2 separate regions of the Homo sapiens genome follow, and region 1 is linked to region 2. The links come from fine-mapping of genetic effects on gene expression. A gene starts in region 2. The other region holds a variant in brackets. All regions are shown on one strand. Distances are between the middles of the regions. Region 1 overlaps LOC105375167 (a long non-coding RNA gene). Region 2 holds the start of LINC02587 (long intergenic non-protein coding RNA 2587).

The links.
Region 1: its variant is fine-mapped to the expression of LINC02587 in prefrontal cortex (CommonMind, PIP 0.95).

What each region holds. Positions count from the first base shown.
Region 1 is chr7:15,728,064-15,743,831 of GRCh38, reverse strand. It overlaps LOC105375167 (a long non-coding RNA gene), which reads left to right. Exons shown (of 3, transcript XR_927058.2): 3 at 7,063-8,658. Among named protein-coding and RNA genes, the nearest start is that of LINC02587, 48 kb to the right of the region's middle. The variant G/A (reference allele first, on the strand shown) is at 7,068.
Region 2 is chr7:15,680,528-15,696,295 of GRCh38, reverse strand. It overlaps LINC02587 (long intergenic non-protein coding RNA 2587), which reads right to left and starts at 7,918. Exons shown (of 2, transcript NR_110094.1): 1 at 7,844-7,918; 2 at 1-1,426. It overlaps MEOX2 (mesenchyme homeobox 2), which reads left to right and starts at 9,613. Exons shown (of 3, transcript NM_005924.5): 1 at 9,613-10,410. The coding sequence starts at 9,894. LOC105375166 (a long non-coding RNA gene) reads right to left here. Exons shown (of 4, transcript NR_134258.1): 4 at 14,316-15,768. RefSeq lists an enhancer at 10,417-11,249.

The sequences.
Region 1 (15,768 bases), 48 kb before region 2:
TGCCTTCTGTAATAATGTATTTAATCAGAGAAAATTATACATTACTTTTATGAAAGTTTGGTTATTAGGCTTATTTAGTGGTGACTAGAGTACAAATTTGTAAATTATATCATAATATATAGGACTTACTAAATTATACTTTGTTAATAGTACCTCCTAGAATGGTACTATATGAGCTAATTTTTTACAGTAGACATCAGTCATTTATTTTTAACCAGTCATGATAATATTTTATTAGACTTCAGAATCTGGTAGCAAACCCTGCTGTAGGACTTGTGAATAATAACAGAGAAAAGCAAATTGTTTCCTTTGGCCCATGAGCTAGATCACACTATAAAAGGATAGAATGATTCTGCACATCAAAGTAGGTTCAATGATGTGCCCATTCCTTCCACCATACTTGCCCCCATGAAGATTACTGATAGGTCTCCAGTGAATTACATTTCATCCTATTGTTTACATAGGAGAGTCCAATAAAACATAGTTTGAGTCTTCATTTATAATTCATATCATGTGACATATTCGAGTCAGTTTTTTAGAAAGAATTAAGGCAATATTTTCCTCTATCTTTTGTAAGATAGAACACTAAGTAAATTTTCTCAAAAAATCTTCTATTTTCTTTAATAAATTATTTTAGGATATTTGTTTTTCCAAATCTTCCAAGAAATGTTATCTCTCTTGTGTCAGAGAATTGTTGATGAACCTTGTGCTGAGGTTTTGTGTGTAAATGGATTTCCTCATCCATGAATGAAGAGCTTCCTATCCCAGAACTCTGAAGTTCCCCTTGAGAGGGCATGTGGGTCTTGACAGTGTCCATCTATCTTGTTCTGCAAACACATTCAATAGAAGTGCTTCAACGGGGTCACATATCTAACAAGCACTCAGCCCATGAGGCCATGCTATTCAGTGGTAGAATTTCTCTGACTGCTCTGTTCAAAGACCAATGTACTCTGCAGTTTTCCATTGTAAATTGTAATATGCTTAAGATACTGTAAGATGCTCTGCTTCTACAGTGCTCCTTTTCCTATTTGACCTATAACTTTTTACGGTTATTATCAATTTTAGGACACATTAGAGGACACTTGTCTCCTCTGCTCTTAGAATTTTTTGTGTCCTAGAGTAAAATTTTCTAAGTGAATATAAAAAGAGAGGAGCTGGCACTTAGCACCTGTAGTGGAAGCCATTGATGTCTTCCATTGACTGCACCCATGGTGCACTCATCTCCGAGCTGTAGCAGTCAATGTTGGCTGCCAACAACTCTCAGAAGCCTCCTTCCTGGATAATTGCTCTGGCCCAAGGTTTCTCACACTCTAGCATGTATCTGAATTACCTGGAGGCTGACTAAAACACAGATGTTTGGGTCGCAGATGACAAAATTGAGCATTTTACTATCTCTCCCTGACACTTGTAATTGGTAGAAAATAACTCCAGTCAGCTCAACTGGGGACTTGAATAGGAAGGAGATGTAATATGGACCTGTGGTGCCAGAGAGAGAGAGAGAGAAAGGGAGAGGGACAGCAATAAGCACAAATACACCTAGATTCATAATAACTTTTTAGCTCCTGGTTTTAGCACCTCCTTAGACCCAGCAGTACTCGCTACTTGTAAATTCTGTGAGATGGATTGATTCCCACCAGTAAACTCCTTCTTCCACTTCAGCTGACTAAAACTTTTTTCTCACTGCTACCAAATGATCCCTAGCCAACACAATCCTCTGCATCTTACACAGTGTTCAGTGAGACACAGATAGACAAGTTTAAAGGATGAATAAATGGATATACAGTTGTAGGTGTCTGCTTTTGTTATTCCTTTAAGATAAAGGAGAAATGACAAATGGAATTTCAATATTAAGGATGAAGATTGTTAAAAAAAACTGACAGAAAAATTTAAACATCATGGCAATCTGAGTTCATTTAAAGCAAGGTTTCTCAAATTGTGTCCCCAGAAGAGCAGTATCTTTCAAGAAATTGATTCATTTTATCTGGTTTATTTGTGGGCAAAGAGTTATGTATAATATTTATTTATTATCCTTTTAATATCCAAAGGATCAGTAGTGATGACCCCTCTTTCATTCCTGATATTAGTCATTTGTGTCTTCTCTCTTTTCTTTTGGGGGCAGGGGTATTAACCTGGGTAGAAGTCTATAAATTTTACTTATCTTTAAAAAAAAACAGCTCTTGGATTCATTGATTTTATGTATTGATCTCGTGTTTTCAAGATCACTGATTTCTGCTCTAGTTTTTGTAATTTTGTATCTTCTTCTTACTTTGGATTTAATTTGCTCTTCTTTTTCTAGTTTCCTAATGTGGAAGCTTAGATTTTTTGAGTTCAGGTTTTTTTTTTCTAATATACACATTCAATACTATAAGTTTCCTTTGAAATGCTGCTTTCACTGTATCCTACAAATTTTGATTTTTTTCTCCATTTTAATTTAGTTCAAATATATCTAATTTCTCCTGATACTTCTTATTTGACTGGTCTGTTATTTAATACTCTGTTTTATAATCTCCAAATATTTGGGGAATTTCCAACTATCATTCTGTTGTTTTAGTTTAATTTTATTGTGAACTGAGAGCTTATTTTGTGTGATTGTTATTCCTTCTATTTTACAGTGCATTACGTGGCCCAGAAAAAAATTAGTGTTTGCCCTAGAGTTTGCAATATACATTTACAAGTAATCTAAGTTCATTTTCAAGTAACACTGTGCTGCTTCATGTGTAGTACAGGTACCTTATTACAAAGCATTCTCAATTACTCCCTCCCATGCCTTGTAATATTTCTGTTACTGATTTCACTTACTCATAAGCTATAATCACCAAATATATTGCTGCTATTAGAATTTTAAACAAATCCATTTATCAATTAAGAATGGTAAAAATAAATAATTTTATTTTACCTTTGTTTAATTCCTTTTCTGATGCGATTCCTTCATTTGTATAGTTAGAGTTTCTGACCTAAATAATTTAATATTTCTTGCAAGGCAGGTCTACCGGCAACAAATTCCTTCAATTTTTGTCTGAGAAAGTCTTTATTTTTCTTTCACTTTTTAATGATAATTTTATTCTTTATAGAATTCTTGGTTGGTGCTTTTCTTCTTTCAATACGAAATATTTTACTCCACTTTCTTTTAACTGGCATGATTTCTATAGAAAAATCTGATATAATTCCTATCCTTGTTCATCTATAGTTAAGATGTTTTGGGTTTCCCCATCCTTGGCTTCTATCAAGATATTCCCTTTATCTCTGATTTTCTGCAGTGTGGCTATTATATACCTAGGTATGTATTTTTTGTGTTTATCTTATTTGGTGTTCTCTGAGATTCCTAGTGTTGTGTTTTGGCGTCTGTCATTAATTTTGGAAAATTCTTAGCCATTAAGTACTTCAAATGTTTTTTTCTATTCCTTTCTCTCTTCTTGCAGTATTCCAGTTACATGTTTGTTACACATTTTGTAACTGTCCAACAGTCTTAGATATTTTGTTTATTTTTTCATTTTTTTCTCCTTGCTTTTCAGTTTGGGAAGTTTCTATTGATATGTCTCCAGGTCTCTGATTCTTTCCTCAGCCTCCAGTCTGCCTATCAGGCCACTGAAAGAATTTTTTTTTTCTTTTTCTTGCAATATATAATTTTTTATTTTTAGCATATACTTTGTATTATTTCTTAGAATTTCTGTGTCTTCTCTGTTTATGGCATCCATCTTTTCTTATATGGGGTCTACTTTTTCAAGAGAGCACTTAGGATATTTAATAGTTATTTTCTATTTTCAGACTGAAAATTCCAATTTCTGCCACCTCTAAATCTAATTGTGATGCTGAATTTGTATGTTTAGATTATTATTTTTTACCTTTTAGCATGCCTTGTGATTTTGCTGTTGCTGTTCAAAGCCAGAAGTGACATATCAGGTACAAGGTGTTGAAATAAATAGGCCATTAGTATGAAGTTTTGTATTATCTGGCTGGGGTTAGGCTGTATCTACAGGTGTCAGAGGCTAAAATTTTCTTCTAGTATCTTTGTTATTGCACCTCCTTTTGTCTTTGGATTTCCTTTTAGACTCTTTCTTAAGTAGAGTCTGAGCTTTGCACTTATTTCAGCTGTAATCCCTTATTACTATTCAGTAGTCTAATTGGAAATGTGTGGGAGGAGGGGAAGTGTTCTACACTCCTGTGATTAATATTTTAGTGGGCTTCTGCCCTTGGTCCCTGACCTTCAAAGGTGCTTGTCAGCCTTGTTTTCCTCTTTAGGTGAGACAGGAAGGCTAGAGAAGGCTGGAACTGGGTATTTCCCTTCCCCAAGGTCCTTCAGTCTCTGGAAAAACCCAAATTGTTTAAGTTCTGATAAAATAGAGCAGGACTTTGTTAGGAAGAACAGAAGACTATGGGGATGTTTAAAAATGGTTGCTTTTCCTTTTCCTCTGCCAGAATCTTGATAGTATTTCCTGTGATCTTCACGCTGAGAACCTGGTGGGCCCCTGGAGGTAAACACTCCAGAACCTCCAGAACATATGACAGCTTCTTCAAGGCTGGCCCCAGGAGGTTTTACCCCTTGAGCCAGTCCATGTCAGTCTTCAACAGTTTGTCAATTCCCTGTAAGTGTTCCTACCAGATCATGTCTTCTGACTGCTTCTGTTCCTGCCAAATTGTGACTCTCTGTATTCCTCGTTTTCTTCAGGACTTTAATTCTCTGATGGAATTCAGTAGCATTGTTAACTTTCAATTTGTTCAGCTTTCTTTGGTTATGAGGATGGGATTGATGAGTTTAAAGTCTTTACATGTTGGACTGAAAGTCAAAATTTTTTTTTATTTGCAAAGTACCAATGATAAAAATTAAAATCACAACAATTTCATTAGTTTTTTCTTTAACACATAAAGGAAGGTTTGCTAAATCAATTTCCTAATACCTGTCCAGAGGTAAGATTTACAATGTTGAACCTGGGCGCTTTGCTCCAGAACACAGTTGTGGTTAAGGATCATTCCCCACTCTTGTGTTTTTCAGAACCCCCACCATTTTATGTTCCAGGAAATTGTTTACTGCAAAGAACCACCTTTCCCCATATGACTCAGATAAGATTTGATGTCCACTATTTATTGTGACTCTCCTAAGACTGACAGATGAGCTCCTTGTTTACCTATGACAAGGCCAGATACAAAAGCTCTAAATTCCCATTCTTTGGCTCACCAATGATTAGGTGAAATGTTTGTCCCGTGATATTAACTAGACACAGAAATAAACATTTCTTATTCAGCTGATTGAGACACTCCCTGATTATAGAAATAAGCCCAACTGGATGATTGTCCACCTGTAACTTGTTTATTCCTATTTATAAATGCCAAAGTAAAATCACCCTGCTGAGAAACTCTGATATTCAGATCTGGAGTGTTCTCCCTATTGTAATAGACTGAATAAAATCAGTTTACTTGTTTGAATTTTTGTCTTTGACACCCCCTTCTAACAAACTTATACATATTCTCCTTAGCTTTAAGAAAAAGTTTTAAAGGCTTTGTTATTTTAATGTGTTGTGAATTGTAATGAACTTTTCTACATTAAACTCTCACTAATAATTTCAAGACATAATAAGACATTTTGGCATTTAGTCATATTATCCCATGCCCCAAATAACCAATCATGCGTTATTAGTTGCAAGAAACAAGCTTTGATTTGAATGTCAATTTAGATAAATCTGTGATATTATAGGAAGGAATTATTTTTCAAAACATCGTTATTTTGATAGCTTTCACGGAAAAATACTAATAAGATTGCTTGCTAGTATTTTGACATTTATAGAATTATTCATAATCTTGTTTTGTTATTCAATATAAATCTTAACAGCATATTGGCACAGAGTCTGAAATAAATGCAAATAAACAAAAAATTAAATACCCAAACTAATCACACGTTCTTGCAAGTTGCTCATAAGTGATGCCTCTTGCAATTCTATGTTCTGAGAACTACAGATTTGATAGTCAAATTCAATTACATCACATCCTTGGCAGTATACATTCTTGTAACAGGATGTTCAAATGGAAACCTTTCTTTTTAGTTTTGGTGGAGACTTCAAATTCCAAGACGAAAACAATAGCAGGCAAGTGCTTCCACATTCCACACTGAGGTGATATACTACTGCCTATATATGACTAGCAAAGGAAACAGTGCAGAAACAAAAATGCAAACAGTTTCTTGAACTCTAGCTACATATCCTTTATAGCACAACATTTTTCAGGTTAAAGAGCTAAGAGGATTTTTTTTTATACAGTTGCTGAACTGCTATGGATTTTTTTTTTGTCTCTATTCAAAGAGGCAAAAAAGAATGGAGGGTGCCCTAGCCTTAACTGAAGTCAGCTATGGGATCTTTAATCTAATCACCTAGAGAGCTTGAGATATATACATATGTATATGTATCTGTATATCTGTATGTGGATATGAATGTATAGATATATGTATCTGTATATCTGTATCTGTATATGAATGTATATATAAGATATAAATGTATCTATATATACATTCATGTACATGTATATACATATATATACAATACATATGTCTCCTGGAGATATATATATATATATATATATATATACAGCTCCTGAAGTCAAAAAACAGAACATACAGGTTCCTGAGCAATCTCTGAGAGAAACAGGAAAAGAGAGCGGCAAAGCAGCCATCACAGACTTCCCTGCAATGTGTTTTTTGTGATACAGGGATTGTGCCAAGTGAGAAATAACGGGTCAGAGATTGATTTCAACTGTGATGAAGAGGACCATCTGCAGGTTTGATATGATCTCAACCAAAGGGATATATCTTCAGAAATCTAAGACTGAGTGGGAAGGGAAAAATAATACAATTTATTATCCAAGTCAGGGGAAGTGCAGTAGGACTTCGTGAAAGAGTCAGATGTAAACGTTTCCTAAAGCAGGATCACAACAGTAACAGACAAGTCATAATGTTTCTTCGCTCACTGCTCTTTTTTCTAATTCTTCTTATGCTATAGAGGATAGAAACCTGGGGACAAAAAGAAGCAATAGTTACAAAATAGAAATGATGGAGACACATTCCCTTTTTCATTGCAGGCTCC[G/A]TACCTGAAAAGGTACAACAAGGAGGGATGAAGAAAGATCACTGACCAGAAATAAAATTGGGAGTTTAGACAATTAAATTATCTGGACATTTTAATTCCTGAACTACGACTAGGCTACAACATGCGGACTGCTGTAGATGTCACCCAGGAACAGAAAATAACTAGCCTCGTGAGAAAGTTTTGAATGGGCAAAAGGGAAATTGAATACAATTGTTTTTTGCTTGCACCATATAGAGGCGTATTCTTTCTATGTACAGTGATAGGAAACTGGTGGTGTTTGACATCATCCAAAAACAGGGCCCATTTTTTGAATCATAAATTATCTTCATGAACACACCCATTGCCTTCAACATACAGCCTAAGTCTCATACTTTCTAAAATATCTCCGGTACCTGCTCCAGTTCTCAGTGATCACCAATTCCTTTGTCCTCCAATAACATAAATTTCTTTTCTACCTTGTACTTAGAATTCTGTTCAAACTATCTTGTTGTATTCAAAATAATTTTAACGAGCTATAGTTGACATAACATATTTAGTTATCTATCTATGTATCTGTCATCTATCAATCATCTGATGAGAATTTATCATTACACTCAAGATAATGAGCTCAGACATGATTCCCAAATATTTTCTCATCAGGCTTTGTAATTCTTCCCTCTCAACACTCCCCAGCATCCCCCAAACCCAATAAACCACTAATCTGCTTTCAGTCACTATAGATTCATTTATATTTTCTGAAATTTTATATACAATGGAATCATTCACTATGAACTCTTTTTCATCTGACGTCTTATATTCAGCATAATTATTTTCATATGTTTCCGTGTTGCAGAGTATAATTTCGTTACATAGATATTCTATCTTATTTATCAATTTACATTTTTGTAAAGATTGTGAAATAAAAATAAAATCCTAAGCCCTGCAACTGACTGAGCAGACACCTGTTGCCCAAGAAGACTCCAGAAAAACTTTGAAAAATTGAGTTTCCTGGTCATGACAAGGTGGGAGGTTGAGTACCTCTTGGTGTACCTCATTCCTTGCCAATCTTTACTAGATTATTTTCTAAGGGTTAAACAGAAACTGGCCCTGGAAAAATAAAGAAATGAAAACTCACTCCTTTGCTGATTTCAGCCAACTGCTGGACACTGCAGCTGGAATCCTCTCCCTTCTTGTAGTTTCTACACAGCAGCTCACCAGTTTCATAGCACATTCCTTTCTGATTTTTTACTACCAGCCATGGACTGGTTCTGGCCAGATACAGAGGCTGCCCACAAGATGTCTGTCATCTTTTAATGTATACAGCCTAATTTTAATACATTTAAATGTTAATTCTCCATCCTAAAGTGAACATGTGACATATGTAATATGTATGTTTGCTTACTAGCATATGTGTGTCCCTTGTGAATATTCATAACTCTTTTTATAACTTGTTGATATGTATACTTAGCCATCCTGTCCAGTATAAATTCCTGTCTCATCCTTCTTCCATTGAAGTACCTGCTTTTGATTTCTGCTGGAGGCTATGCTTCCCAGTCTGCAGGGTGGCCAGCCTGCAGGCGGAAACCCTTTATAAGAAACAAAGCTCTCCTCTCCAAATATATGGATCTCATGATTTCAAGTCTACAAGACTTAAGTTGTTTTCTTTTCTTTTTTTTTTTTTTTTTTTTTTTTGAGATGGAGTTTCACTCTTGTGGCCCAGGCTAAAGTGCAATGGCACGATCTCAGCTCACTGAAACCTCTGTCTCCTAGGTTCAAGCGATTCTCCTGCCTTGGCCTCCCAAGTAGTGGAAATTACAGGCACCTGCCACCATGCCTAGCTAATTTTTGAATTTTTAGTAGAGACGGAGTTTCGCCATGTTGGCCAGGCTGATCTCGAGCCCCTGACCTCAGGTGATTCACCTGCCTCAGCCTACCAAACTGCTGGGATTACAGGCATGAGCCAAGGCACCCAGACAGTTTTCAAACTACTGTTATAAATAAAGGTGCTGTAAACATTGGTGTACAATCTTTATCTGAACATCTGTTTTTATTTCTCATGAATAAATGCCTAGATGTTAAACGGCAGGATTATAAGGTAATTATATGTTAAACTTTCTAAGAAATTTCTGAACAGTTTTTTCAATTGCCTGTACAATTTTTACATTTCTACCAGTAGTGTATGAGAATTTCAGTTGTTTAACTCTCTTACCAATACTTGTTATCTAATTTAACTATTATCTGAATTATTGTTATTATCCAAATGAAATTTACTGATTCTAGTGAGTAGTAATATCTCACTGTAGTGTTAATTTGAATTTACTTACTCATGATGTTGCACATCTTTTCATATGCTGATTTGCCATAAATTGCTGGATTACAGCTAATAAAAATAAACAAAATGAAATCATAAAAATACTAAATTAGCCCTAAAGAAAAAAAAAAAGAAAGGAAAGAGGAAGAAGAAAAAAAAATGGGACAAATAGAAAACAATGGGTAAGGAGACAGTATTAATTAATAATATCAATAACCACATTACATATAAATAGTCTAAATACTCAAAAGGCAGATATTGCTAGATAAAGTAGCAAGAATTGCTTATCACTGCCTTAAAAAACCTAATTTGAGTATATAGATAGCAATGGGGTAGAAATAACTGAATGGGAAAATATATACTAATATTAATGAAAAAATGCTAAAATGACTACAGTAATTTTAGACAGAGTGGGTTTCAGAGATAAAAAATATTCAAAGGAGCCACTGAAAACTATTTAACTTCCATCTATAATGTTTATTTTTTCTAGTGTTGCTTTATGCTAAAAGAACATTTTAATTTATTGCACTTGACTTGTTAAATACCTTGATTCTTTGTAATTTTAGGAATAAAGTATAGTTAATTTAAAGAAGAACTTTCAATGTAGCCTTTATATCACATTATAACTTTCCTCAGAAGGGTAATAGAAGCACTGATTCATAGTAAGAATCTTCTTTTTAACTTTTAGAAAATGTATTAAAAGAGCTAACGAAGACCACTGCATAATGATATAGGAGGTCAACTGATAGAAAATAACAGTTCAAAATATGTGTATGCCAAGTAACACAGCTTCAAAATACAGAAAGAAAGCAATGATGGTACTGCAAGAAAAACAGAGAAATTCACACATGTAGGATAAGATTGCATTCTTCTTTAAAGAAGTCAACCAACTAGACTTCATTTATATTTATAAACAATCTATTCAACAACAACAAAGTACATATTCATTTTAAGTGCACACAGAACGTTTACCATAAAATGTTATATTCTGGGCCATAAAAAAGTTCTCTATATTTCTAGGAAGGTCTCAAATTATACAGAGCATGTTATCTGACCAACATAAAATTAAATTAACAACCAATAACTAATATATTAGAAAAATCTTCAAACATCCAGAAACTACAAGATAAACTTCTAAGTAAACTATGGATCAAAGAAGACATAAAAAAAAATTAGAAAGTTTTTTGAACTGAATAAAAACGAAAACATACCAAAAGTTTAGCTTGTAACTAAAACTGTACTTAAAGACAAATTTATAACACTAAATACCTATGTTTAAAAAAGAGAAAAGGTATCAAATCAGTGATTTAAACTTTCATGTTAAGAAACTAACACAATTTGAAAAATATCAATCCCAAATAGAGCAGAAGAAATGAAATACTAAATGTAAAGGTAAAAAGAGAAAACAGAGAAAAATCAATAAAAGTGAAAGCTGCTTCTTTGAGAAGACAAATACATTTCTAGCTAGATTGATTTAAAAAAATAAAAATGAAGGCACAAATTACCGAACTAGTAATGAGAGAGGTGACATCACTGGTAATTTTGCACACATTAGAAGGATAATAAGCAGATATAATACATTTTATGACAAATTTAACAATTTCAATTTCAATGAAAAAATTCCTTGAAAGACACAAACCAACAAAGCTCACTAAAAAATAAATATAACTCAAAAAGCCGTAACTCTTTTAAATAAATTGAGCTTATAGTTAAACTTTTCCATGAGGAAAAATTGTGGATCAGATAGCTTCATGGGGAAATTCCACCAAAGTGTCAAGGAAAGAATAATAATTCTGCACAAACTCTTAGAAAATTGAAGAGGACAGAATGTTTTTCAATCCTATAAGGCCATTATGATCCTGATACCAAAGCCAAATAAGAGAAAACTGGAGATGAAAATCCATCATGAACATCGACGCAAAAATTTCTACCAAGGTTTTACCAAATGTTTATGTCACACACACACACGCATCTCATGACATATATAATATGTCATATATATGTCATGTCTCATATATAATCTCATGACAAAATGGGGCTTTATTCTAGGAATGCCTGCCTGGTTTAAGATTTTCAATTCAACCAATGTGATTCTTTTTAATAACAGCTGAAAAAGGTAATCTGTATAGCTGGAGAAAAGTTATTTGATAAAACACACCATCCGTTTCTAATAAAAGCTCTGAAGAAACCAAGAATAGAAGTGAACTTCCTCAAACTGAGAAGGTGAGGAGATTGAGTTGTTTTACAACTAGACTGAAAAAGTTGTGTTTTGTTTTGTTTTGTTTTGTTTTTGTTGTTTGTTTTTTTTTTTTTAATCTCTGAGGATGCCTCATTTGTGACTCTTGGTCAGGATAAGAGTAATGGCATTTATGTTATGCTGTTTAAGGTCCAAAACTCTCCTAATGGCCTTCAAAATCAGTTTCTTTACTGATATTTGCAACTGGCCTAACCATTTTGTCCAGCATGGCTGGAGATACAGATTGTTACATATGTGGGACATGAATATGAATAGTGGTCCCGGGGAAACTTCTTGTGGAATGTCTCTTTGGTATCTGATGCTTGCCTCAATTCTCTTTCTCTTTCTGTATCTAATCCGTTGCCTTTTAATAATAATCTTACATGTGTGTGTTCCATAGAGTCTGATGACTCCTTAAATATCCCTAAATGGAATCTATGAAAAACTAACAACTCAAATCGTACTTAATGGTGAAGACGGAATACTATACCTGTAAATTCAGGAACAAAGCAAAGTGGTCAAAGTGGTACACTCTTTATTATTTCTATTCAACATTTTACTGGAGATTCCAGCCTGTGTAATCAGGTTGAAAAAGAAATAAAAGGCAATCACTTATGTAAAAAATTCTAAAAAATCTACAAAGAAACTATCAGAATTAGTAAATGAGTTTAGCAAGGTTTCAGGATACAAGATCAATTTACAAAATTAATTATATTTCTATTATACTAGCCATGAGCAATTAGAAAAATGAACTTATAAAATGATATTATTTATAATGGTATAAAAATATAAACTACTTATGGATAAATTTGACAAAGAGGTATAAGTTCTAGACACTGGAAACTACAAAAGATACCTAGCATAAATTAAAGATTGAATATGTGGAGAAATATGGTGCATTCAGAGTGTGATGACTCAGTATTGTTAAAACATCAATTCCCTGCAAATTCATTCAATGCGAGCCCAGTCAAAATCTCAGTAGACTTTGCTGTAGAAATTGTTTGTTTTAAAATTTATATGGAAATACAAAGAACTTAGAATAATGAAAACATCATTGAAAAAGAAAAATAATTTTGAAGGACTTTTCACTATCTGATTTGAAGACTTATTATACAAGTTTAGTAATCAAGAAAGTGAGTATTGCTGTAATCATAGGAAAACAGATCAATTGATTATAGACATTAAATATAAATTCATGCATTTATGGTCAATCAATTTTTGCCAAAGGTCCCCAAGAATTTCAACTGGGAAGGATAAGCATTTCAACATACGCTACTGGAAAAATTTTATAGCCATAGGCAAAAAAAGAAGCCTTATTTTATGTCATACGTAAAAATAACTCAAAATGGATCAAAAACCTAAAACTATAAAAGTTTTGGAAGACAAAAAGAAAATCTTAGTGACCTTGAGCTTGGCAAATATTTTTTAAACTATAACACAAAAAGCAAGAACAGACTCAGTACATTTGACATTATCAAAATTAAAATTGTTAGGTTTTCAAAAGGCACTGTTATAAAAACAAAAAGGCAAGCAAAAACCTGAGAAAAAAATATTTGCAGGACATGTATCTGAGAAATAACTTGTGTTTAGAATATATAAAGAATTCTTCTAACTCAATAATAAGAAAATAAACAACATAATTTAAAAATGGGCAAAAGATTTGAACAGACACTCTTATTTTGATTTTTAGCTTTTCATGTGGGTAAGCCCTGAATAACCTACATTTCTTTAAGCTATCAGCACCAATCACAGTTAATAAATATGTTTTGAAAATGTCCAAACTGATAGGGAATGACTTAAATAAAAATCTGCTGCCATAAAAGTTATACTTTTCTCTACAATCTTTATTAGAGTTAACAGTGGAATAAACTAATATGGATGTTCAGACTACTGAACATACCAGTTCACCAATGCTCTACTTTTGTTTCTGTTTGATTTTGGTGCCTTTTTGCTTCGATAGTCTAGACATAGCCTGTGTTTCTTAGACATGTTTATAAATACATTGGAAAGGTGGTCTAAATAAAGGCATTGCTGAAATACAAAGCATCTTTTTGTTATACAGGGCTGTTATTAAGAAAAGATTCCAAAATAAGGCTTCTGGCAGTGAATCATAGATTCTGACTGATGTTTTCTACAGATGAGGGTTCAGCTCCACCTTTCTCAAAAATGTAAGTTTTAGAAGGAGAGGCCTTTCTTTCAAAGCCCTTGGGAAAAAAATTGTAGTGTAGACTGTGTTTCTTAAAACCACTCCTACCATTGTTTGAAATCCAATGGCAAAGGTCTTCTCTGGTAAATAAATGATTTTGAAACTCTAAAGCTTTCAACATATTTTGCTCCTAGATTTGAAGCTACAGCCTTGCAGTAGGATCTAAAAAATAAAAGAAGGGGAAACATTAAGGAAGCTAATTTTCCCTCATGAATGTGAAATTAAGTGTGAAAGTAAAGGTTCTTTGTGCCCTAAAATATGAAAGAGGCTTAGCAAATTACATTATCCAAAGCTTTATTTCATACATAAGGAAACTGAGACCCAGAGCAGGGTGGTGCTGGACCCAGGAGTGGAAACCTTAAGCCAGGATTCTACCTCTAATCCAGTGGTTTTTTCCATTACACCTTCTAAATGACAGGAGGAAATAATCTCTGACAACACAATTAAGACCACTTAAAGAGGTCAGATAAATTGCCCAAGGTCACGTAGCCAGTAAGTGGCAGTGCTGGTACAAGAATCTAGATATGTGAGACCCCAATGCCCATGATTTATACTATGCCATCATATTTTTAATATATTACTGTAAAACCAATTGAGCATATTTCTATTAAAATATATTTGAGTTTCATGAAAGAAGCTTTCTGGTTTTGTTCGTCAATATGTTCTTTAACATACCATAAATACACAATAAATATTGAATATTCATTCATAAGTTTATACATATTGATTGATTTTAATACACATAATGTTTACCCTGAATGCTTACCAACTATTCACTTAGAAGGCAATGGACATGTGTATTGGCTACAATTCTTTAGCAGCAAGAATTTACCTCCACTGAAGCTCTCTTAAAAATATATTTTTCTTTTTTTTTTTTTTTTTGAGACAGAGTCTTGCTCTGTCACCCAGGCTGGAGTGCAGTGGTGAGATCTCGCTCACTGCAAGCTCCGCCTCCCAGGTTCATGCCATTCTCCTGGCTCAGCCTGCCGAGTAGCTGGGACTACAGGCGCCCGCCACCACACCCGGCTAATTTTTGTATTTTTAGTAGAGACGGGGTTTCACCGTGTTAGCCGGGATGGTCTTGATCTCCTGACCTCGTGATCCACCCGCCTTGGCCTCCCAAAGTGCTAGGATTACAGGCGTGAGCCACCACGCCGGGCCAGAAATATATTTTTCATGACCCCAGATACACAGAAGTGTTGAGGAAAGTTTCTAGCTGATCCACTTGACTAACGTGGAAAAAAAAAAAAGAAAAAGAAAACAAAGATAGAGATTTTTATTAATATATGTCTGCAGGCATACTCAACTCTACTGATTTCCAGAGGAATTAAGCGATATTGGGCTGACAGAAAGGTGAGAAATGAGTGAAGAATTTGCTTTGCATAAGTCAATTTATCTTGAGTCCCATGGCAATTTAGGATTTGTTCCTTGAGCATCTCTCTCCAGCTATACTTTCTCATTTTCTATTTCGTTTCCAACTCCTCAATCTTTATCATTAAAAACATAGTCATTGAAATCTCATTCTTGCCTGTAAATCTAGTCTTAAACTCCCAGCACAAATTCTATTATATTGAAAATCAATATGAAATTGTGAAACAATATTTTGTTGGGAGATAACATAGTATATTTGTTTATACACGCCTCTCATGAATATGTTGAAAGTTGACTGTGCCTTAAAAATAGAACATATGAAGAAATGTATACAACATAGGACTTCTGGCAAGCATAATCTCATTTCATTTATTCTTTGTAAATACTTCAATTATGTCTGCTAAATATTTTTAAAATCACTTTCAACATACTGCAATGATTAAGAACAGACAGTACAAAGTTGACATCTTTTACATGATCTTAAAGTCTAGAAGGTGTGTGCTGTGAGTTTGTTGTACTTCTATGTGCCGTTAGATAGATTAAGTCTGTTTCTCCATGTAGCTCTTACTTAATGAACAATCCTAAAATAAATCACTCC
Region 2 (15,768 bases):
ATAAAGATAGTATCTATCATTTATAAATACACTGTACATCAATTTACTTGCTAGTTGAGTAACATAAATTATATAATTTAATTGTCAACATGAAGCTATAGAAATAAACATCTTTATTTTAGAGATGAGGAAACCTAGACACAAAATATTAATTAACCTGGGCCACAATCAAAGTGTTGAAAACTGACAAAAACAAGACACAAATCAAAGTATCCTTTTCAGAGACAATGCTATAAATCGCTATAAAATAGATCGTATTGGCTGCAAAAATATATAATGTCTCACTGGGAATAAGTCTGATTTACAGAGACTGGCATCACAACTGGTGTCACAATATGACTGCAGACACTGTGGGCAAATCCCCAAAGAATTTGAAACACTGTTATTGCATATGGACACAACTGTTGTTCTAATTCCAGTGAAAACTAGAAATGAACCTCTGCTCAAGGGCAGAAAACAAAGCAAAAATTATGAAATAAAAAGAAGCTAGCAAACAAAACAAAACAAAAACCTGAAGCTGGGATGAGCATACAATTAGTTAAATTTTCTTTGCAGTTGTAGAAGCAGTTACATTTTCCTGATGTGGCCCAATAGCTACGTAGGTACTAAAATCTTTTGATAAAGTGAAACTCTTAGATCTAAATGCGCTATTAAGTATATGTATTGAGCTCTTGTTTTGTGCCGGACACTATGATAGAAAACATCAGCATAAGATGCCATCAAGCAACAGGAAGTACAGAGTTTAGTGGTGTGAAGTAGGCCTAGTAGGAGTACATTTGAAGTTTGTCAAGACCTGTTGTAACAGAAACATTTACTGCTCACCAAATAGCCATCTGCTTCAGAATATTTTCTGGTCCTCTCTCAGGTATGCATGGCTTTGTTCTGGTCCATGAGCTGTGAGCAGAAATGGCACCTACCACCTCTGCCTCAAAGTATGTAACACCAGGCATGTGACCCTCCACCTCTTTTTCCCCCTGCTGTGGGATCTTGGAGACACATGCTGAGATGACTGATTCACAACGCCAACTGCTGCCTGGAGAGCCAACCATCTTGTGCCACGATATGCAGGAAATTTTTCCAAGGCAATAAGATGTAGAGGTAAACTTGTGACAGCATTGTCTAGTTCATCCTGAAAAACACACCTGGCTCTTCTTTATTCAAAAAGGACATTGCCAACCAAGCTGTTTTAAGTGTATCAACAGTTAATTAACAGTGATGCTCCTGATACACAAAGGAATAACAGACGTCTTCACATAGGGGGTTTTGCTGTTTCAGGAATTTCCTGTGTTTCCTTGAGATCTTGTTCTGGAGGTTTCCAGGTGTGGTACCACATTGTGAAGCTCCTAATCATGGGGTCAAAAGGATCAACTTACAGAGAGACTTTAGGTCCTACATCATTTTGACAGATATATATGTAATTTGGTACCTATTTGCAAGGGGAGGGAATAAAAGAAAGAAAAAGTTAAATGACACCCTCTAGCTTAGCACTGTCCAATGTAAACCACATAGGTCATTTTAAGTTTTCTAGCATCTGCATTAAAAAAGTAAAAAAGAAAGAAAGTTAATTTTAATAGTATATTTTATTTAGCCCAATGTATACAACCACGGTTATTTTAACATGTAGTCAATGAAAACCTTCATTAATTTCACAAGAAGTCTTTGAGATCTGGTATACATTTTAATCTTAAAATGAATCTCAATTTGGAAAAGCCACATTTCAAGTGCTCAACAACCACACGAATCTGCATTCCACAGTGAGGTCTAGATGTAACTTAAATTTGTTAAACATTTGTGGAGCTTATGCCAGTCATGATGGTAAGTATGTTCACAGCATTGTCGAAATTGTTTATTGTAATATTCTCTTGAGTTAACAAATGAATATATCCACAGAATTAGAAACTGACAGAGCTAAGATCCAAATCAATTCTCCACCCTGGCTCTGAAGATGGAGGAATGCTCTAGGGAACTACAGGATCATGGGACCCCTCTATAATTTAAACAAGATGAGTGAGGCCCCCAAATAAGGTACTGACTGGTGGTGGAGAGGATTATGGAGTTAATGAACATTAAATAAGTATAATTGGGAATACTTCACTTGATGATTGATTGCATGGGGGAAAAGGAGAAGGAAGGAGGGGCTTGGCAATTGTGGGTTCCTAATTCTGACTTAAGCAACTGACTTGTCAATAAGGCTGTTTAGAGAGAGACTGACATGGGACTTGCTCACTGAAAATTGAGATTTAGCAATGTTTGATCACTGGAATTGCTAGTACAGTACAAGGAAAATAACCCACTTTTTTTGGTTCTAGCCATTGCTATATTTGACACAAATGCCAGATTACAGTGATCTAACAATTGCTTCTTAAGAAAAATATTGTTCACATAACAGAACTAGACATAGATTAGCAAGCCTTTAATACTGCTACAGAAAGAGAAATAGCTAATTCAATAACCTTAGATTTACAGTGCATAATATTTACAAGCTTCTATGTGATTCTTTATATCTTTCTTCTCTAAAAATACACACTTCTCTAAAAATAGGCTTTATCACCACATGTGCAACAGTGAACATTTTTGCAGTTTTAAAACTTATGTGCTTGTCTTTGGTTCTGGAAGGATTCCAAGTGGTGCTACCTGGGCCTGAGACCTTTGCCTGGTGGAGTCTATCTGATGAAGGTATGATCAGATCTTAAAACCCAAAATGACTCAGCTTTCAACTTTGATCAAATCGCATCATTAACTGTAAGAGGTAGGATATCAGAGGTAACCAAGAACAAAATGTGTAGAAATTCAAACATTTCACAAGCTATTGACAGGTACTACTGGCCCACAGATGATAATTATGATGAATAAAGTAATTAACATGGAAGGTCATAAATGTGCTATTTTTATTGCTCTATAGTTACTATAGCAAAGGAATGTTCTTAAAATTGTTTGCAATAAATAGAGGTATTATTATATTTGATTATGGGTCAAGTCTATTTAATTTGACCTTGAGTATATCTTCAGAGAAACATTACCATCACTTTAACCAGCACACTTAATCATCTTTAATAAGTTATTTGCAGAAATGCTGCTTCAGATTACTACAGATGTCCTAAATTAGAGGAAAAACCTGTCAGTTTTCTTTTACTCATAAAGTCCATTTTCAACATCAGTTGTCAGTTTGATTCTATTTTATCATGAAGTATTACAAGATTATTTTGACCTTTTCAGTCACTGTGCTCTTTTTCTACCCATTAGTTTTTTTATACCCTCAAGAATGAATTGTTAGAAGTGGAATTGGACCAACGTAGAGTCCCGCAACTTTGAGCTTATAGGACAAAGGTCATGCAAAATGCGTGTCCGGTGGGGAAAAAAGAATCTTTTCTAGTCACTCTAAGGGTTGAAGAGGTTGCATCTAGTATTTATACAATCTTATATAATATAGAGACAGCTTTGTTTTGATCACAGGCCCTTTTGTGGATGAAAACAACTGTTAGCTGGTGGTATGAGAAATTGCCTTGTCTTGGGCCTTAGAGCTCAGAGCTGGTATTCCTCCTGGGTTCTGGTTGGTGTTTGGTACAGAATTTCCTTACTTGTGCTTTGAAGTGCTTTACAGTGCAGTTGGCCCAGGACTTCTTTTTTTTCCTCAGACACTAACAGCTGTTGAAAACCAGCTTATTCCCTTCCCATATACTATGACCCCAACTTAGCAGAAATCATCCTCTAAAAATAGATGAAATTTAGAAAAACCTTTTGCTTACAATGAGTTTCAGGTAACAAATTTGTAAGACGAAAAGGTAGTGATTATTCAGAACTTCAGATATTCAATAGCCTACACATGTCTAAGCATTGATCACATCTATATCCACATTTCACATTAATTATTTGAAACTGTTTCTCAGAATAGTAATATTTCATTATTACTTCTATCAACAGTATATATGCCGTGCAGTTAAATATGAACCTTTCTGATTACTTATTTTTAAAATTCCAATTAAACCGAGATATGAACCTGGAATCTTTTTACCATGATCATATGTGGCTTACAATTTATGTATTAACAAATTTAAAATTATTTTTAATATCTTTAAGCTTGTCTCACTTTCTGTCTTTTCACCTGCTAAATACTCTTCTGATTTTTTTTTTTTTTTTGGCCCATTCTGACCTTCTGTTACCTTTCTTGTTTCTTATGTTAATTAAGACATGGGCAGACAGTTGTCATTTAATCATTTCATCCTTGTTTTGATCCATTTCCATAAAGCCATTGCCTTGTATGAAATACTCCATATCACTCTCAAAATCTTCCAAAAAAAAAAAAAACCTGTGCTCCATCAAAGTACTATTATAATGTTAAACTCTTAAAAATATGCTTTTATAAGAGATCTTGTATTTGGCCTTAACTTTTCATTTTGTTTGGTATACAAATATACAACATTTTTCCTTTATTCCTAAAAAAAAAAGTTGACATAAAAGGCAGCTGGTATTTCTTTGTTGAGTCTGAATCATATAAAATATGAGTGTGCAATTAAATATTTTGGAGAACTATACTAACAGCTAAAACACAGAGGTTTTTAGTAATCCAAATCATAAACCTGAGCTCAAAATGGAAAAGCCACTTTAAGAATAAAACTTGCTACAAATTGATGAAGTATGAAAAATAAAAACACACAAGAAAAACTTATCATAGTGCCAAAGTTACATTGGTTATGTTGAACTCTTCAAGTTGGAAAACTTAAAACAGAAGACTAAGGTTTTACTTATAATTCCTGTCTGTATTTTCGATTCAATTTTTCTTCTCTGAGGTTTGTGAACTTTTCTAAATTCAATTCATATAAAAGGATAGCCTTGCTTTTTAAGACATGGGAGAAATAAACGGTGTAGTTCCCTTAAATTGTGGATAGAAATGTAATGGTTATGAGTTGGATGCTATAGAAAATATAACATAATATAGAGCATTTCATTATAGAATTCTCTTGAATTAGTTTGCCTGTACCTCTCCCTGTTATGGAAAGGATATAATTTTCAATGACAAAATTTTGAAAAGGCCTACATTTATCAATAAAAATAACATACAACGTGAATGCAAATGAAAATGTAGAAATTAATTATTGTCTATTAGCATTATTATGAGTTAACTATCAAATAATTATGGATTTAAAACAGGTGAACAAAAGGAAGTCCAGATGGAAGTGTTTGAAATTTGAGAGGCAATCTATGTCTTCCCAATCATAAGACGCCTCACAAAATAAAAAAAGAAAAAGAAAGACAAGAGATCATTAGAATTTTATTAAGTGTGAATACATATTATGAAAGAATGCATATATTTTGAATTTTTAATTCAATCTTTTAGATTTAATTTTATTAGTCATAATCTATATTGCATGCTGGCTTTCTAAAGATCATCCGTTAAATAGTTCTAATTTTGATATATTTTGTTTCCTCTCTTATTGCTTTAGGCAGAGTTATATTTAGCGTTGAGAACAATTTCATTGATTATACTATACCGGAATTGAATGGAAGAAAAACACTAATTCCTGAAAGAAATAAATTTAAATGCAGGAAGACCTAGAAACTAGAAAAACAAAGTACGTTGGATTGTTTTACAGTTTAGAAGTAAGGTTTTAAGTATTCATTTCTTTTGGTACATGTAAAATGAATGTAACAATTTTTACTGTGAATGTACCAATTAATGTTATATAAAAATAATAACATTTTAAAAATGTGTAAAAGTATACAGAATCACTAAATAACATGCATTAGCCATAGCAAAATTGTTCCATAAACTTTATAATGCATAGTTCCTGGGGAGAATCAGTTCCTTAGTTTTATAAAATAATGTACATCATAAATCACATAAATTACCATTGGGTATTTAGCATATTTGGATACATTTTCAAAATTCTTTATTTCAGAAGAACCAACTGAAGGACATAACTGCTACTTTTTGGCAAAATATAGCAGAAATAATATTTCTATACCCAATAAAGTTTTCAGAAACAAATTACAACATTAATTTAATTATCCACCCTTTAGTTCATATATTATGAGTATATGTTACCAAGGAAAATTTATCTATTAGGTAAAATTCAAAGTAGAGTTTCCTATTTAATTTTAAATATTTGAAGTTCCATGACAACTCATGTCACACGTGTGCAGAAGAATGGCAACTTTTAAAAGAATCGTTGTGAATCTTAAAGTAAAATTTAAATACAATTTTGTTGTATTGCTTAATATGAGCTCTAGTCCCCTTAAAATAAAATAGTCCTAATAAAAAGAAATCTCTGCCTTTACTCTTGAATGTCATTTTATTTAAGCCGAGGAAACAATAGATATACACACTTATCAAGTTTAAAGAACCTAGCCTACGTTTAAAATAATTATAGCTGTGGACCCTGCAAGAGCTAAGTAGCTTACCTTTTCACAGAATCAACCTCTTTATAATGTGTTACTTGATATTGAAACCTTACATGAAATGTTGGCATTAATATAACTTATCTTCAGGAAAACTCAAGTATATTATAAATGTAGGATAAATACTATATCATACATAGTTGTAAATGATTGTTATATAGAAATTTTATAATAAATTTTATAATTTTTACCATTCTTCTTGATATCATTAGGTAAAAAGGCATCTTTTCAATATTGGATTTTATGGATGTGAACACTGAAGTAGCTATTATAGGAAATGCTAGGGATTTTTTTCCCGTTGTTACTACATTTTAAAAATTTCTCTATAACCTAGAACATAAAATTCAATATTCTATCTTATTCCAAATATTCTAATAAAATTTAAAAATCTTTATGTAATGATTAATACATATTTAGAAATCCAGAGAAAATTAAAGTTATATTTAATTCTGGAATTCACCAAGACGTCCTTTTTAGTCCTTCATTTTTTCCTTCCAAATATTTTCCTTATATTCTGTTTTCTATAAGAAAACTGGACATCATAATTTTTGCTGATATTAAATGTTCTGTGTCTTCAATTAAAAAGACCTTTCTTGCTAGCTTTGTTTTCATTGCATGCCTTTGGAATGACTTCCTCCTTTTCTAACCTTTCTTAAATTTTTCTTCCCAGGTTTCTGGCCCCACAGTTCTAGAGGCTGACTGACTGGGGCAGGTTGTAGAGAAACTTCTGGACAGGTTGTTAACATCTGACACAGTGAGTGAGAAAAAATCCAGCACAGTCACTGGGCAGGTTTAAGAAGAAGTGGCAGCCTCGGGAGATGAAAGGTTTGTGTGTGCTTGTTGCTGGTTACCTGCAACACACTGGTTAAATTCAAATCCATTCATTTAGTAATTGCTTAGCTTCCTCTAAACCAATGTAATGCAAACCAAAAGGACCGTTGTGGATGTTTTGTACTGATGTCTGCAGATCATGAGTAATTTTAGTCTGTCTTGTCTGACATTTTCCACAATGCTTTTAGTTGACAGCATTATATTATGTAAATATTTCTGGTTAGGTTTATTGAGGTGGTTGCCTAAATCTCACTTTAAATAAAGCCTTTAATGCTTTCACCCAGAATCCATAGAGAAGCTACATGAGTTGGGGAAGTTTAGTGTTGCTCTTTGTACTTTAACTTTTAATATCAGAGCACATATTGAAACCATAAACACAATGAAAATACAAAAAAATATTCCGACGATATTGGAGGACTATAACTCCCCCACCTCTTTTTATTCTTAAAGAGCCAAGGGCGTGGGGAGTGGCAGGAAGAGATATTCTCAAGATCTAAGTCCTGGACGCCATCCTGCGAGTGCTTAAAGCCCCTAGAAACGTGCAACCTGAACAACACCCCTTTTCGAAGTCTAAAACAATATTAGATTCCCAAAATATCGGCAAAGAAAGTCTTACCGTCAGACTTGCAGCAGGTTTCAGCTCAGACCCAGACTGAAAAGCTGAGCAGCTGGTGAACAAAAGATTTAGTTTTTTTTTTTTTTTAAACGAAGTCTGCAAAACTAATTTCCCTCAAAATAGAGCTCAATTTCCGTTAAAGAAAGCAGCGCTTACAAATCTCAGAATTCCTGATCAACCCCCACTCCACCCCACCTCTGAGCAATAGAAAACAATTCGATCTTTCACACGGATGTTATTGCGAAGCCACTATTCTGCAGTGTGACTTAAAAGAAAAGAAGATAGTGAGGCTTAAGCAAGGGGACTGGAAGAGGAGGGGAAAGGTTCTGCTTTGGGGACACCTCTCAAAGATTAATCAATGCTTTTTCCTAATTCAAACCAGATGTCTAGCCCAGTTTGCTGTACCCATTAATCCCACTAACAACTTCAAAGACCTGGTCATCATCCTCTGGACACCTGAGACAATGAAAAAACGGGGCGACACTGCTGGTGGCGCATTTGGGGCCCCGGGCAGAATAGGTGACTACAGATATTCTCCTGATGCGACAGGTCGCAGATGGGACATGACTGTTCCTCCTGCTCATTACAGCGCCACTCACTTGTGTGTAAACGACTCTGCCCCCAGCGGACCCTGTCGCCCGCCAAGCAAGTAGCAGCTTCAAAGCCCTGCCCTCGCTCTCGCATGCTTACTAGAGGCGAGTTTTCTATTTTATTTTCAGGGGTGCAAAATTGTAACCAAGTGCCCACGGTGAGTGAATTTTGGGAGCTATCGAAATGTAAGAATTCTCAGTAAATGGAACCCTGGTGGTAAGGAATGCATTAGCGGATTTATTTTTGAGCAGAAGAGAGTGGATTTCTGGAGGAAACCGAGGAGATCTGGGCTAGCTCCTGAGGGGAAAGGCTAGAAATGCGCGTGCAATCTACACATCTCATATGACCGGGACACAATCGCTTGGAAATATTCTTGACCCAGGAAAAGTTCTTCTTGGTGGACAAGTGGCTAGGAAATTGAGCGGGACCGGGAAAGAGGGGGAAGGGAGCCTCCACCTGGCATCGCACGTGAGGATGCCAGGGAGCAGGCATCTGCAACCCTTTCAGACTCACGCCTTCCTCCCACCCACCCAACCAGGTCCGTCTTCTTTCTGCACTGAGAACCGCCTTTTCCAGGCCATGGTGCTCATCCCCGCAACCTCAGATCTGGCGTCCCAGCCTATTAACAACCCACCGACAGAAACCAGCTGCGAAAACCTAGGCGCGCTGCGGCGCCCGGGGCACGGGAAGATGCAAAGTTTGAAAAACTTCGAGGGTGCGCCAAACTAGCTCTGGTCTTTTCCTTTAACCCTATTACTTCTTTCGTGTTCCTGAAAGGATAGGCGTATCCCTAGCTTTTCTGCAGGTGACAGTTCCCAAATGACACTGACAAGTCACGTTTCCCCGAGAGGAAAGTGAGTAGGTAGGAATCAGGGTGCTAGGTTGGGGGTGGTGTGCGCCGCGCCCAGGCCTCCAGAGTCTGGAGGGCAGAGCTGCTGCCCTCCCGGGCGGGACTTAGACGTTGGCGTGCCGCTTGTAGTCCTGGCAGCCGGCAGTGCTGGGCGGGCGTGGACGCTCTACGTCCGTCCAGCAGGAGATAGGAAGTGGAACTGGGAGCGCGTGGCGCAGGCTGAGCGGGAGTTTTGGAGGGAGTTTGCATGTGGTCAACTCTGGGCTCCTAAGCCAGCCCCCAGCTCACGTTACACTCTATTTATAACTTCTCAGAGCCATTTCCCCCTGAAAGCAGTTCTCTGGGACCACCTTCTTTTGGCTTCAACCTCTCCCACTCTTGACATCTGAGTAGCTCAGGGAAGCTCTTCCAGGTCCGACTGTTCATATGTAAAGGAGACTGGCCGCTGGGGCTCAGGACCGGGATTATCCGAGCTCTGCAGAAGTGCACCGCTATTGCTTTGGGAGGTTAAAAAAAAAATCACACGGTTTCCAGTGAAAAAGTGACAGAGGGTGGTGGCCTTTGGAACCGCCGTGAAGTCTTCTGCCTGGAACCCGAAACTTGCATGCTATGGAACACCCGCTCTTTGGCTGCCTGCGCAGCCCTCACGCCACGGCGCAAGGCTTGCACCCGTTCTCCCAATCCTCTCTCGCCCTCCATGGAAGATCTGACCATATGTCTTACCCCGAGCTCTCTACTTCTTCCTCATCTTGCATAATCGCGGGATACCCCAACGAAGAGGGCATGTTTGCCAGCCAGCATCACAGGGGGCACCACCACCACCACCACCACCACCACCATCACCACCATCAGCAGCAGCAGCACCAGGCTCTGCAAACCAACTGGCACCTCCCGCAGATGTCTTCCCCACCGAGTGCGGCTCGGCACAGCCTCTGCCTCCAGCCCGACTCTGGAGGGCCCCCAGAGTTGGGGAGCAGCCCGCCCGTCCTGTGCTCCAACTCTTCCAGCTTGGGCTCCAGCACCCCGACTGGGGCCGCGTGCGCGCCGGGGGACTACGGCCGCCAGGCACTGTCACCTGCGGAGGCGGAGAAGCGAAGCGGCGGCAAGAGGAAAAGCGACAGCTCAGGTAAGGGCGCGCCAGGCACCCTCGAGAGTGCGCGCCGGGCTGGAAAAGGGGCGGAGAGATACTAGGGGAGATTCTCGCACTGGAGGGTGGCAGCAGGGAAGATGGGAATGTGTTGCCCTCTGTGGCTTCCTGCGGCCAAATTCGGCGGTGAAGCTTTGGTCCTGATATTTGGGGACACGTGTTTATTCGAGAGCAATGCGTATACAGCCAGCAGCTCTAAGCCCTCCAAAGTCCTAAACTAGTTTACCAGAAGGTTGATAAAAAAGGACAAGTGGCTGTGAAATCGATTGTGAAGCGTGACCTTCCATCCCAGCGCTGGGGAGGGAGGGGCGTGCGCCCAGGGATGCAGCGTCCGTTGGGCAGGCGTGCGTGCGGGTGCCGCTTCTTGACTTTTCTCTTGCAAGTTGCCGACTCTGAGTGGCTCGATTTTTCCCATCGTTAACTGGATTTCCAAATTATTGCACAATGTTTGGAACTTGCAATGGAACTTGGCAGAGCGCATGAGAAAAAAAAGTTTCAGTTTTTTTTTTTTAACATTCTTATTTCAGCGTTCTTTAAATAGCACCCTATTTCAAATGGTAAAATTTTCCCTTTATTGGGGAAGAAGACATTATCTAGGAATTCAGATTTTAAGGAATGTGTCAGAGAATTGTAAATAAATAGATGCTCACACTGGAAGAAAGACGAACCTTAATAGTACATGTCCATGTGGTGTAAGCTAATTACAGAACCTAAGTTTCAAAAGTGGAAAATAAATCCCTCTACCAAGTGGGTATTAGTAGAGACAAATACTGCGAAGCAACAGCAACTCGGGTACTGTTAGTTAGATACGTGTCTAAAGGGGTATGCAAGGGTGCGCGCAGGAGGCGCTGATTTCAGTGGGGATAATTTGAGCAGCCATGCAAAAGGGGAACCTTCCTGACCTCTGGTGCTTGAAGGCACAACGTGCCGAATAAATTGTAGCAATCCAGAGAAACTCAAAGTTTCCAGACAAGTTTTCAAAGCTCTTACCTACCTGTATTTTTATAAAATTGTTAAAAGATACTTTAAAATTAAGAGACTTGTGAGTTTTCTTTCGTGGGTATAGTGCAACCTGGATTAAATACTTTTGGAAGGTGTCATTTGTTTAATATAATATTTGCATATTTTTCTTCCTCTGTGGAATTGGGTTAATAATAGTCCTAGAAGGTAATCCCATATGTTGGTTTGAAGGATTGGAAAAATGTTGATCGTGTGTAAAGCTTTAGGTAAGATGCCACATAAATGAAAATGATTGGCCGCATATTTAATATTCCTTCACCATTCACAGCAATATCAATTGTTCTTCAGCGTTACTATAGGATGGATTCTTCTCTCACGGTCTCAAAAGCTAACTTTTATTTTCCAAGGTCAGGGGGTGAACTTTTAATGTTCCATCACAAATTAGTTTTTATAAGAAAATTACCAGTAGTGTCACTGATATTTAATGTATTTTCCTAACTATAAGTGAAACTCTCTTTAGATAGTGAGTTGAAAGGTTAATCATAGCAAAAAGGTTTCAATTTTTATTAGAAAAACAGTCGATTTTAGAATGCAGTGACAATTTCATAAACTGAACATTTGATATCAGTGTAACTTTGGAAGCAGATCCCAGTTCGGGTTGATGAGCGTACTCTTGCAATTCCCATAAGCTCTTACGGTTCATTTTATTTCTTGCAATGAGAAACCTACATGATAGATTGTTCTTCATGCTTCCTGAACTGAGCCATTGCCCTTAAGTTTCTCAGGGCAAACAATTTTCATACAAGCACATGTTATTTTGTTTGGGGAAAACTGAGAAAACGGAATTCAATAACTGATTCCCTTAATTTATTTTAATAATTTTTTTAAAAAATGGAATAATTTAACAAAACTAATTTATCTCTCCCCCCCAACTTAGTGGGAAATAACCATTTAACAAAATTAAATTCATTTCTACATTTTGAAGCTGATAATGAGGGTACTGGAAAAACAAGCAAATATAAGTGTTTGTGTCAGCTACATAAATTATTAACAGATTAAAACTTCAGTGGAAAGTACAATTAGTCATCACCAAGGATAAAAATACTGGGGATTTAGAATGAGCTTTTCTTTCCTTTGATATGTTGAAGAAATATTGACTAAAAGGAAAATCACAATAGTTTCTGTTTAAATCTATGTACACTTATTGAAAATAAAATTTTATTTGCCAATTTCAGCTGAAGGTATATTTGTCAGATATTGAGATAGATTTAAATTAAAGATATCTTTCTCGTGTAACAATTGCATTAGGTGTTCCATAAATTATCTTCAAAGATATTTTATTTCATAGACATCTTGATCTAGCACAAACTAAAACAATATTGAAAATGATTATGATCCTGGTATGCTATTAATACGTATATCTCTCATTGCTTATAGCACATTTTAGTATTTCAATATTTCTAAAATATAAAATTGAAGTGATTTCGGAACTCCTGAAATTTAAAATTGTATTAGATAAAAATGTCATCCTATATAGTGAGATCATTTGTATTTTGTTAGGTAGTTTATAATTACTTTGCATTTATGGTTGAGAGAAAATTCAGTACATAAATCCAGGGTAAAGTCAGGACCAAAATTCTGTATCCCTGCATCTAATACTTAGACTGTATGTGTATGTGCTAATTCTAATTACCGTGTTAAATTCTAATAGAATTTTAAGCACCAGAAAGTATTGAAAAACAGCTTAAATATTTATAAACCTTACAATTTTATTCATAGTAACGATTTAAAACTATAATACGTAAGCTTCTCTAGCATATATTTTATGCACTTTCCCTCCACAAATGCACATGGACACACACATATGCAAACTCTAGCAGCTTCATGTTTTGGAAGCAAATATTTATGGACTTTAGGCTTCCTTTATGTAAGTTTATTGACAATTGAAAATAACCAAATTTAATAGAAAAACACACCATTATATTTTATATGTGTTAAACATTTTTGTAACTTTGAACCTGCTACGCTTTCCAGCATTATTAGCAAAGCCAACATCTGCCACGTCTTCAAAGGGACTCTTAAAAATCAAAACTTTACAACTGCTGAAAAAAATCACTACAAAGCAGGTGATTCTGAAAAATGTCTATAAATAGTGTGAATTGCTTGGCTTCAATTACATTTGGTTGCTCTTTGAGCAATCTAGTAGTAGGAATAAACTGCCCAGTTTTAGTTAAAATAACTAAAATTAATTCATTGATCGAACTTTAGCTTTTGTGCATGGTTATACAGTGTACATATCTAGATATTTTCTATTCAAATTTATGATACATATTTTATAAAAAATAGAAATTACATCAAAAAAGAAAAGAGCGATTTGGGGAGGTAGACTTTACTAGGTTTTGAATCATATTAGATTCTTGTAAAATTACAAATATTTTATTTATAGCTACTATGTCATAAAACCTTTGCTGTCAAATTATGTCTGTCTATATGCTTGACTATGCAGAATGACTAGCAAATATTACATTTAATAAGTTGGAACTTAAACTCAGAGTAATACCTTATCAACCTCATTCAGTATGATATTGTAATATTTCCAAGATATTTCAATCATTGTGTTTTCTGAAAGGAATAAATTAGTGTTATTATTCATTTCTGTGTTACTGGATTGTGGCTTTTCAGCATTTGCTTTAGAATTTAAAAAATAATATACTGGATCTTGAAGATTAAAGTGAAGTATTGAACAAATCAAATGGAGTACAAAAAAAAACTTCCATTCTTTATCTTGGACTGGTAGACTAATTTTAGGTGTGAACATTTAAAAATGGTAATCTGACATAAAAAATTCTAAGTATCATTGACCTACATGAGGGCTCTAAAATGTGATCTAAAATAATCACACTCAAGTTAAAAGCAACAATTCCTTTAGAATTAAAATGCTTTATTGTTGAACATTAGCAATGAATGGAAGGAAGAATGCAAATAAAAGTAGGAATAGTTTCCAATTCTGTGTAAATTTCTTCATTTATAGTTCATTTTAAAAGAAAAATCATAAATGCAAGGCATGGTATTGCACAAACTTTCACCGGGCTTAGAAATCCAGAACTTAGTATTTAAAGTTTTAATCTTTGTTTATGGTAATTATCAATAGAAACCTTTACAATGACATCTTATAAGCTGATCTTTACTAATAAACTGAAAAAACAGTACTTCAGTCATTACCCCATTCTCCCTCTGTGTTTCAAAACATAGACCGTTCATTATAACTCTGGAATTTAAGTTGTAATATTTATAATAAAATCTAAACATCCTAAGAACTTAATTTTAAGCAAAAATGAAATATCAGAAAATGTCAATCCTTTCTCTTAGATTCTGAGAAATTTGGGAGGTGAATTCCATATGTAATGAAATAATTACATTTTTTTTTGCACTTAAGAAATGTAAATCTATAGATGAATTAATAGCTGAATTATGTAAAACATCACCATATATAAGCCCACTACATGTACTTAGCCTGATAATGCTGCCTTGCTTGCGAAATTTTATTCATTTAGTGTTTTTATAATGGCAGCTTGACACACACAACCTAATATGAAGGTTTTTTAGATTTTAATTTCAAATGAGAAAAACCAATATAATACAGCAATATATTTTAGTTTTGAACTGTATTCACCTCAGGAATTTATTTCTAAATTTTCAGAGCAAATCTCTTTTCCAAGCACTGCTATGAGGGCTGCAAATATCTTTGAGCGATAAATACTAAGGATGCAGAAATATTAGAAAATAAATTACAGGTAGGAATTTCTTAAATAATATCTGTTGAATTAATAGTTGTGGATTATTTATCTCACCCAAATTTTCTTTATTTTTCTCACTTTTTTTTTTGATAAATGAAACATTTTGTGCAGGAAGATATATAAGCATTTCCCCCCTTGATTGTAATAATAAAAAGAGAAGGCTTAATTCTCAACTGGCCAGTTACATTGTATTTCCTGGCTTATAGTATTGGTAAATGATTTCAGTGGTTAAAATCAAAAGCAAAAAAATAAAATAAAACACAAACTAAGGCCAAAGTCCACAGATTAAAAATTGAAGTAGATGTGATTTATTTCCTATTTAGCATATTTAAGAAACAAGACACATTTTGTAGTCACAATTTGTTTCTACATATCATGTGCTTTAGATGTTAATATGGTTTACTGACATACATGTTTTGTAAAGATTGTAAATATAATGAGGCACTAACATTTTGCCTACTTTCCTTAGGATGCTCTCATGACTATTTCTTTTACTAGCGTGTTGAACTGAACCCCCAAGTAGAAAAGGAGTAACGGTGTAAAGTAAAGTTAGTTGCAAAACTCTCTACATTACTCCTAA